Linked DNA regions of Homo sapiens: region 2 is linked to region 1. A link means that fine-mapping ties the variant in region 1 to the expression of a gene that starts in the linked region. Tissue or cell type: whole blood. Region 1 holds a variant in brackets; the other region holds the start of a gene. All regions are shown on one strand. Distances are from middle to middle.

Region 1 (5,194 bases):
TGTTCTCTTTGATATTTGACCATTTAATTACCTGAAAATGTGAACTTGCTGTTTATAACCTGAAAATGTGGAAGTATTTGTTGTTATTTCTGTGTCCGTTTTTTCTCTCCTAAAGGAGAGACTTTCTGTTCCTGCGCGCGTATGTGTATATTTTAAAAGAACACAAAATAAGGCTAAGCACAGTGTCTCACAGTTCAGCATTTTGGGAGACTGAGGTGGGCGGATTGTTTGAGCCCAGGAGTTCAAGACTAGCCTGGGCAACATGGCCAAACCCTGTCTCTCCAAAGAATACAAATATTAGCCATGCGTGGTGGCACACACCTGTAGTCCCAGGTACTCAGGTGGATGAGGCGGGGAGGGTCACCTGAGCCTACTAGGGAGGTTGAGGCTACAGTGAGACAAGAGTATGCCACTGCACTCCAGCCTGGGCAACAGAGTGAGACCCTGTCTCAAAAAACCGTGAAACATAAATTTACCTTTCAAACAGTTTTTAAGTGTACATTATAATTTTGTTAACTATATGCACATTGTTGTACAACAGATCTCTAGAACTTTTTCATCTCAACTGAAACTATACGCATTGAACAACACCTTTTTTCTCCCCTCACCCCCTAGCAACCACAATTCTTCTTTCTGTTTCTGAGTTTAATTATTTTAGATAGCTCATATAAATGGGATAATGTAGCACTTGAATTTTTGTGATTGGCTTATTTTACTTAGCCATTATCTAAGACAATACTTAGATAATGTCTAAGATTCATCTATGTTGTAGCATATGACAGGATTCCCCTCTAAAAGCTGAATAATGTCACAATACTGTGACATTATTTAAAAATGGGCAGTGTCATAGTATATGTGATATTATTCACTTTTCTTTTTTCTTTTTTTTTGAGACAGTCTCGCTCTGTTGCCCAGGCAGGGGTGCAGTGGCTTGATCTCGGTTCACTGCAACCTCCGCCTCCCGAGTTCAAGTGATTCTCCTGCCTCAGCCTCCTGAGTAGCTGGGATTACAGGCACACACCACCACACCTGGCTAATTTTTGTGTTTTTAGTAGAGACAGGGTTTCACCTTGTTGGTCAGGCTGGTCTTGAACTCCAGACCTCAAGTGATCCATTCGCCTCGGTCTCCCAAAGTGCTGGGATTACCGCACCTGGCTATTCACATTTCTTTGTCCATTCATACATTGATGGACATTGAAGGTTGCTCTCACATTTCGCCTGTTGTCAATAAATGCTGCAGTGAACATGAGTGTGCAAATATCTCTTCAAGATCCTTGCTATCAGTTCTTTTGGATATATACCTAGAAGTGGGATTCCTGGATCGTATGGTAGTTTTATTTTGAAGAACTTCCGTACCGGTTTCCATAGCAGCTGTACCGTTTTATATTCCTGCCAGCAGTGCATAAGGGTTCCAATTTCTTCACATCCTCAGTAACACTTGTTATTTGTTGTTGTTGTTGTTTTGATAGTGGTCATTCTAGTTGGTTTAAGGTGATATCTCATTGTGTTTTTGATGTGCATTTTCCTGATGATTAGTGATGTTGAGCATCTTTTCATATGTTTGCTGGCCATTTGTATATAATCTTTGGAGAAATGTCGATTCATGCTTTGCCCATTTATTTATTTACTTTTAAGTTATTTTATTTTTTTGACAGGATCTTCTTTGTTGCCCAGGCTGGAGTGCAGTGGCATGATCACGGCTTTGCCCATTTTTAAATTAAGCTATTTTTTTTGTGATTGAGTTCTAGTGGTTCTTTATATTCTGGCTATTAACCCCTTATTCAATATATGGTTTGCAAATATTTTTTCCCATTCTTTGGGTTGCCTTTTTACTCTGTTGATCATCTTTGCTGTGCCAACGTTTTTAAGTTTAATGCATAGTCATGTGCTATGTGATGACATTTTGGTCAGTGATAGACCACATATATGACAGTGGGCCCGTAAGATTATAATGGAGCATACTGCGTTGCAGATCAAGTAGAGGAAATGATTAATATTCAGTGATGGTGCTGGGACATTTGGTTTTCCATGTGAAAAAAATATAAATAAAAATATGTATACTACCTAGGTTTGTGTAAGTACACTCTGATGTTCGCACAGCAACAAAATAGCTAACAATGCATTTCTCAGAATGTGTCCCATTGTTAAGTGACACGACTGTAGTCTTTTTTTTTTTTTTCAGGCTTAATTCACTTTATTTTTCTTGTATAAAAACCCTGTGTTGTAGCCACAGCTGGAGCCTGGGTCCTCTGCATGGAGACTCTGGTGTGGGTCTTGACGAGATGGTCAGTGAATTCCTGACAGGAAGACTTGATGAATACAGTCTCCTTCCAGAGGTCGGGGGTCAGGTAGCTGTAGGTCTTAGAGATGGCATCAAAGGTGTCCTTGGTATAGTTACCCAGGGCGGCAGTGTAGCCCCTGGCTAAGGTGTAGCAGTCATCAATACCAGCCATCATAAGCAGCTTCTTGGGTACAGGCACTGAGACGATGCCAGTGCCTCTGGGCGTAGGGATGAGGCGCACCAGCACAGAGCCGTGGTGGCCTGTCGGCTTGCAAGGGATGGTGTGGGGCTTGCTGATCTTGTTCCCCCAGTAGCCTCTGTGCACAGGGACAATAGAGAGCTTGGCCAGGATGATGGCCCCGTGGATGGCAGTGGCCACCTCCTTGGAGCACTTAACACCCAGACCGATGTGGCCATTGTAGTCCACGATGGCAACAAACATCTTGAACCTGGTGCGCTGGCCGGCACGGGTCTGCTTCTGCACTGGCATAATCTTCAAAACCTCGTCCTTGAGAGAGGCCCCCAGGAAAAAGTTAGTGATCTCAGATTCCTTCATGGGCAGG[G/T]AGAAGACATACATCTCCTCCAGGGACTTGATCTTCATGTGCTTGACCAGGCGGCCCAGCTTGGTGATAGGCATCCACTCTTTATCCTCGGCCTTGCCTCCATGAGCTCTGCGGCCTCAGCCGCGGCCTCAGCCCCAGCCCCGGCCCCGGATGCCACTGCCGAAACCTCCACGGAAGCCACTGCATTTCCCCATCCCAGGCGATCCCCACCACCGGCTGCCACCAGCATCATCTGCCATTTGGTGTTTTCTCAGAGAAGCATCTATTTTTGTTTTTGTTGTGCATGTGTGCTTTTGGTGTCATAGCCAGGAAATCATCACTTAGTCCAGTGTCATGAAGAGTTTCCCCTATGTTTTCTTCTAGTTTTATGGTTTTCAGATGTTAACATTTAGTTTTTAATCCATTTTGTGTTAATTTTTGTATATTTTTGCCCATATTTAAAACTTTAGTGAAATAACATAATTTAACATTATTTGTCAGCATTGTTGCCTCTGTTTACCAAGTGGGCTTAGAGCCTCTAATGTAACATATATATATATATATATATATATATATATATATATTTTTTTTTTTTTTTGAGATGGAGTTTCGCTCTTCTTATGCAGGCTGGAGTGCAGTGGTGCGATCTTGGCTCACTGCAACCTCTGCCTCCCGGGTTCAAGCAATTCTCCTGCCTCAGCCTCCTGAGTAGCTGGGATTACAGGTGTATGCCACCACATCTGGCTAATATTTGTATTTTTAGTAGAGACGGGGTTTCACCATGTTGGCCAGGCTGATCTCGAACTCCTGAGCTCAGATGATCCACCCGCCTTTGCCTCCCAAAGGGCTGGGATTACAGACGTGAGCCACCGCGCCCAGCCCATATCTTCATTTTAAGAAACATTGTTATCTACTATTGGTCCAGCAAAACGTGTGTGCATGAAACAAAGATATGGCAGTAGAAGGGTAAATACTATAGTAAGAAGTCTAGGCCGGGCGTGGTGGCTGATGCTTGTAATCCCAACACTTTGGGAGGCTGAGGTGGAGGGATCACTTTGAGGTCAGAAGTTCAAGACCAGCCTGGCCAACATGGTGAAACCCCATCTGCACTAAAAACACAAAAATCAGCCCAGTGTGGTGGTGGGCGCATGCAATCCCTCCTACTCAGGAGTCTGAGGTACGAGAATTGCTTGAACCTGGGGGGCGGTGGTTGCAGTGAGCCATGATTGTCCCGCTGCACTCTAGCTTAGTTTAGGCGGACAGATCCTCTGAGTTCAAGAGTTCAAGACCAGCCTGGCCAACTTGGCGAAACCCTGTCTCTACTAAAAAATACAAAAAATTTGCTGGGTGTAGTGGTGGGCGCCTGTAATCCCAGCGACTCGGGAGACTGAGGCAGGAGAATCGCTTGAACCCAGGAGGCAGAGGTTACAGTGAGCCTCGATGGCGCCACTGCACTCCAGCCTGGGCAACAGAGAGAGACTCTGTCTCAAAAAAAAAAAAAAAAAAAAAAAAAAAAAAAATATATATATATGTGTGTGTGTGTGTGTGTGTGTGTGTGTGTGTGTATATGTATATATGTATATGTATATATATGTATATATATGTGTATATATATATATATAGCATAGGCAACTTAAACCATGCCAGAGGGAATTGAAAATAGGGACCTACAGGAGAAACAAGAAAGAATGAATACTAGTTGGCTCTACTCAATAGGAAGACCCAGGGAGAAGTTGGAATTAACTCAGATTTCCAGCCTGGGTGACTCTGAATGGCTGTGAATGGCAGTGTTCTTATTAACAGGGATTGAGAAGGCACATAGGAATAGAACAGCATTACCCTTGGACAGTGAATTTAAGGTGTTGCCTATTGGACATCTGCCATGTCTTGTCACTTTTCGATATGGGTCTGGCCCTCAGGCAATAGCAGAGATTTGAATGGAGCTGTAGAGTCACAAGTCATCTTTATAGACATGTTAGTTGAAGCCATACGCATAGATGAGCTCATCTGGGAGATGAATTTAAATCAAAGAGATCAAAATTTCCTTGTTTCACTTAACTAATCTTCTTAGCCATTTACTCTTATTGTGAGCCTGGCTTTTCCACCTGACCAAGTTCTTCTTGTTCCAGGAATTCAAAGATAAAGAAACCAGGCTCTATTATTTCTTTCTGATTGATTGATATTTGGTTTCTAAAAGAAATTTTCTTCCTTCTCTACATTCACAAACTCTTCTATTCTTTTGCCACATTTTATACACTTAAGTTTAAACCAGTTTCCATGTATATTTTGTCTATATTATGTTTGTTATTGAGAAATAGGCATTTTTGGGAAGAAAGAATTTGGCATTTTGGAAATAATCAGAAAATTAAAA
Region 2 (5,194 bases), 30 kb before region 1:
TCTTTGTTAGTACCTGGCGTGTGTTCAGTAGTCAAAGTAATTAAAATTAGCACCTATATAATGAGCTTGTCATTTTTAATGTTCTTTACCAACCAGAATCCTAATGAAGTCTAAAAGGTTTAGGCTGGGCACGTTGGCTCACGCCTGTAATCCCAGCACTTTGGGAGGCCGAGGCGGGCGGATCAAGAGGTCAGGAGATCAAGACCATCCTGGCTGACACGATGAAACCCCGTCTCTAATAAAAACACAAAAAATTAGCTGGGCGTGGTGGCAGGCGCCTGTAGTCCCAGCTACTCGGGAGGCTGAGGCAGGAGAATGGCATGAACCCGGGAGGCGGAGCTTGCAGTGAGCCGAGATAGCGCCACTGCACTCCAGCCTGGGCGACAGAGTGAGACTCCGTCTCAAAAAAAAAAAAAAGGTTTAAAGTGGGTACATTAATTGATGTACCACTGTAGGAGCACCTCTAGATACTGAAGGCCACAGTATCTTGGCTCACTGCAACTTCCGCCTTCCCGGTTCAAGCGATTCTTCTGCCTCAGCCTCCGGAGTAGCTGGAATTAAAAGTGCTCGCCACCACGCCCAGCTGATTTTTGTATTTTTAGTAGAGACAGGTTTTCTCCATGTTGCCCAGGCTCGTCTCGAACTCCTGACCTCAAGTGACCCGCCCGCCTTGGCCTCCCAAAGTCTTGGGATTACAGGTGTTAGCCGCCGCCCCCGTCCTGGTTTTTGTTTTGTTTTTTACATAAAACGCAAGATTCTCTAAAAATGTCCAAATTTTGGCTATGTATATGAACATCATACATACGTATTAGATTCAAGCTAATACTCACTCTTCTACTCTGCTAACATGGCCAGAAGACATAAAAAAAATTTTTTTTTGAGACGTAGTTTCACTCGTCGCCCAGGCCGGAGCACAATGGCGCGATCTCGGATCATTGCAACCTCTGCCTCCCGGGTTCAAGCGATTCTCTTGCCTCAGCCTCCCGAGTAGCTGGGATAACAGGCGTGCGCCACCACGCTCGGCTAATTTTGTATTTTTAGTAGAGACTGGGTTTCACCATGTTGGTCAGGCCAGTCTCGAACTCCTGACCTCAAGTAATCCACCCACCTCGCCTCCTAAAGTGCTGGGATTACCGGCGTGAGCCATGACCCCGGCCCAGAAGACATAAATATTTGCCGGGTAATGACACCTTCGGGAATGAACAATGGTTCTTCGTTTATTATGTCACCGACCCTAACAATGACCACACAATGTACTAAGTCAACATGGCTAAGGGTGCACTATGGGTTATTTGTTGTGAATCTCTAAGACTCCATGTGATAACCAAAATACTTTATTTTGTTTTGAGATGGAGTTTCGCTCTTGTTGCCCAGGCTGCAGTGCAATGGCGCGATCTGGGCTCACTGCAACCTCCGCCTCCCGGGTTCAAGTGATTGTCCCGTCTCAGCCTCCCTAGTAGCTGGGATTACAGGTACATGCCACCACGCCCGGCTAATTTTTGTATTTTTAGTAGAGACGGGGGTTTCATCATATTGGTCAGGCTGGTCTCAAACTCCTGACCCTCAGGTGATCCACCCACCTCGGCCTCCCAAAGTGCTGGGATTACAGGCGTGAGCCACCATGCCCGACCCAAAATACTTTTTTTAAAGGTATCACAGCTCCAGGAAATAGAGCAGTAAATTGATCTGTCCTTCAGATCACCAGGACTTTCATAGGCTAAATATCTTCACAACAGACCTCCAAAACCTTCAAGGTCAGAACTGAACACACGGTGGCGAGAGGAACTGTCTTCACAGCAGCTCTGCTTCCTCGGAGACGGCCAGAGGGAAAGGCCGTTGGCCAGTGCCAGTACTTCGCCCAAGGGAGTACCTGCTCACATTAACCCAGCCCAAGAAGTTCCTTTGGCCAAGACGCACACACACACACCACTGTCCGGTTTTCTATTTCCTTCCAGTGTAACGACAACCACAAGCTATCAGCACTTCACTATTTGCTGTCCCCTCAGCGGGATCGGGATGCAGCTACGCAGCGGGCCCCTGGCGAGCCGCGGTGTCAGGGCCCTTTTCTCCTCTTCCCACCGTGGGAAGCGAATTCAGTGGCGTCAAGGGCCAAGAGCCAGACCTGAGTTTGTCTCTCACCCCCCGATGCTCGTCTCCCTTTTCTCACTGCCTTCCGCCCCCTCTGATCTCGACTTCTCGCAACCTATCCAGGTCCTCTCTGGGCCTCTGCCCTGAGTCAGCCCCGAATCAGACGGGCTTGACTCGCTGAAAGAATTCCCCTTTGAGAGGAGGCAGATTCCCCTCTACATAGACGACACCCTGACGTCGAGGGGCTTGCCCCTCGTCCGTGGGGAAGCCTTCCCGGCCCGCGGCTGGGGCCTGAGGTTGGGCCGATCACCCCTCCTACCAGTCCTAGTTCGGGTCTAGCGGAATGGCTGGGCTCCGAGAAGGGCGCCGGGCCCACGGGCGGGACGGCCAGGGCGGCCCCGCACCCTCTGGGCGCAAATTTCTCCAGCGGGGTCCCCAGCGCGGCCAGCCCCAGTCTCGCGAGAGGACGTGGGTCCCGCCCGGCGCCCGACCCCGCCCGGCCCCACCTTCCCCTCGTCCCCCGCCCTCCTTCTTCCACTCCCCGCGGCGCGAGCGGCTGACTGCCCGTAGAGGAAACGACATTCGGAGCTGCGCTCCCGCCCACGCCGGCCCTGACGCGGGCCTCGTCAGCCAGTAACAGGGAGCAGAGGTGGGAGTTAGCGAGGCGACCACGAAAACGGTGAAGGTCGGAACCGACAGCCTCCTCCGAGAAGGGTGAGGAAAGGGTCTGAGCCTCCCCGTTCCCTGGACTCCGCAGAGCCGCTGCGGGGTCGATCCCTCCCAGGGGCGGGGTCGCGCTGGGCAACTGCAGTCCTGGGGCCGACTGGGCGGGGTGCGCCCAGAAGCGGGGAGAAGGGGTCAGTTGGGGGCAGAGGGCACCCGGGCGGCGGGCGGCGGGGAACAGGCTGCGGGGCCCAGGCCAGGGGTGGGGTCCTGGGGCCGGGACTCCTGCAGCGGGCGGGGAAGCCCCCGGCAGGCCGGTCCCTTCCGCCTCTCCTTTGGACCCTGACTGGAGGCCGGCGGGCGGGCGGGCGGGCGGGAGAGAGGGAGGGAGCGCGGCGCGAGGGGGGCGGGTCCCGGCGGCGCTGGGCGCTGATTGGCTGAGCGTGTGTGGAATCGGGTGATGGGAAACGCAGCCCGGCTCTCCCGTACCCTCCCGCTCCGCTCCCTGCCCCCCGTGGCGAATGTGCTGCGCAGCGGCGGGTGCTTACGCTCGCGGGGTTTGGCTGTTGCAGGCAGGAGCTGGGAGGAGGCGGCAGCGGCGGCGGCAGAAACAGCAGCGGCGGCGGCGGCGGCAGCTGGGAGGAGGTGGTGACGGTGGCAACGGCAGCGTCGGGGACGATGGCGCGACTCGTGGCAGTGTGCAGGGACGGGGAGGAGGAGTTCCCCTTCGAGAGGAGGCAGATTCCCCTCTACATAGACGACACCCTGACGGTGAGCGGGCCGGGCCGGGCTGGGCCCGCCGCTCCCCTGGCAGCTGTTTCCCCTCCTCCCCCTCCCCCAGGCCGAGCGCTGCGCACTGGAGAAAGAGTGTGTTGCAACTCCTAGGCGAGGCCTTCTCTTCAGCAGGCCCCACAAACTCGCCTTTGCAGTGGGTGGCTCGGTAACCTCTGTCGGCCCCAAGCCCAGAGCTCCGTACGCACTCCCTCTCTCCAGATTTTCCTTCTTTTGGAACCTTATTCCTTGACCCTTTCCCTTTAGGAGACGCTGCTTTTGTCAAAGCACACATCTCAGAGAGGGGTTGAAGGATCTTGGGCGTTTAGGGCCTACCCCATACAGAAACCACCTACCCTCGGGGAGGCTTAATTACCTGGTAATGTCGCAGCTGCACTGCTACCTGTGTATTTTCTGTTTTAATACTGGTAGCTCTCACCACATAAGCTTAATTACTGGGGGCAGAGTGACATGCTCGTGCACAGTCAAGATTCCACTAAAATGGTTTGATTTCGTTGTAAATAGTCTCGTATTGCCTAATGCATTAAAACTCTTGAAATGATTGTATTGCTAGGCCCTTTCTTCAAAACGGGCTTTCTTCGCATTATTTAGTTTACAGGTGGACTTTTTTTTTTTTAAAGGAAGCCAAATTATTGAATGTGTAAGAGTACTATAAAAAGCTGATTGCTCATCTTGAGTGTCAAGACCCAGTTCCGGGTACTTTATTCTTTAGATTTGGTAGTGTAGCATTATCGACCCTCTGCCCTATGTTGCTGTACTGTTTCCTTTAAAAGGAAATGGCTGAAATTTGAATTGAATCTGAACAGGAAATGAGTGCAGTTGCTTGCCACTTAAGAAATGAAATTAACCTTTTCCGAATATCTTTTGAAATCTGCGTTTTGATGATGCTGAAGCTTTGGATTATACATTTGCTTATTTCGATAAGGTGCACCTAAGTCTCTTCATCTCATCAGTATTCTTTTGCTATCAAAGGCAGTTGATCAGTTTTGTTCCTCAATATTTTTTTTTGCAAATATCTACCGAAGTTTTTTCAAATTTTATGTAAAATGCAAGTCATTGTAGAGATGCCAGTCTATGCCTTTATGCTTGCCAGTCTCAATTAAGACTTGATTGAGCTGCAGTACTTTAAAAAGGATTAGAAGAGCTATTGAATGACTTAATTTATTAGAAGTTTTTAAGTGACAGCATTTCTAATTATTCAAGTGCATTTATTTTTCATGAAAAAAGGTAGAATGATTTGTTCTGACATAAAGTAAATAGTGTTGATGCATTAGAAATTGTGTGTCTTGATTATGATTTCTGTACTTTTTGCATTAGAAGTATAATGGACTTGTATTTTTAAATAGTTGAAACTAGCACTGTGATCATATTAAATAATGCATTTCTCAGTTTGGACTTCAGATAGGGATTCATTTGTTGATATTTTCTTTCTTCTCTCCCCTGCTAACATAAACACTTTTCTGAAGCATATAGTTATGATATCAGCCTTTAAGGTTTATTGTCCCACAATGGCTGTGGAGTTAAAAAAAAAAATTCAGTGAGTTTGGATATAAGATTATTATTTAATGAATAATCATAACATAGGAAAACATATCAAAACATAGGGAAAACCAACATAAATAGTCTTCAAAAGACACTAGTTCTTGGTATA

What was found. PIP is the estimated chance that this variant, and not a neighbour inherited with it, causes the effect.
Region 2: GGNBP2 starts here. The variant in region 1 is fine-mapped to the expression of GGNBP2 in whole blood (TOPMed, PIP above 0.99).

Annotation. Positions count from the first base shown.
Region 1 is chr17:36,572,243-36,577,436 of GRCh38, forward strand. All of the region lies in intron 6 of GGNBP2 (gametogenetin binding protein 2), which reads left to right. It also overlaps the pseudogene RPS2P50. Among named protein-coding and RNA genes, the nearest start is that of DHRS11, 17 kb to the right of the region's middle. The variant G/T (reference allele first, on the strand shown) is at 2,845.
Region 2 is chr17:36,542,296-36,547,489 of GRCh38, forward strand. GGNBP2 (gametogenetin binding protein 2) reads left to right here and starts at 2,624. Exons shown (of 14, transcript NM_024835.5): 1 at 2,624-2,802; 2 at 3,324-3,522. The coding sequence starts at 3,430. It also overlaps a transcript of MYO19 not described here.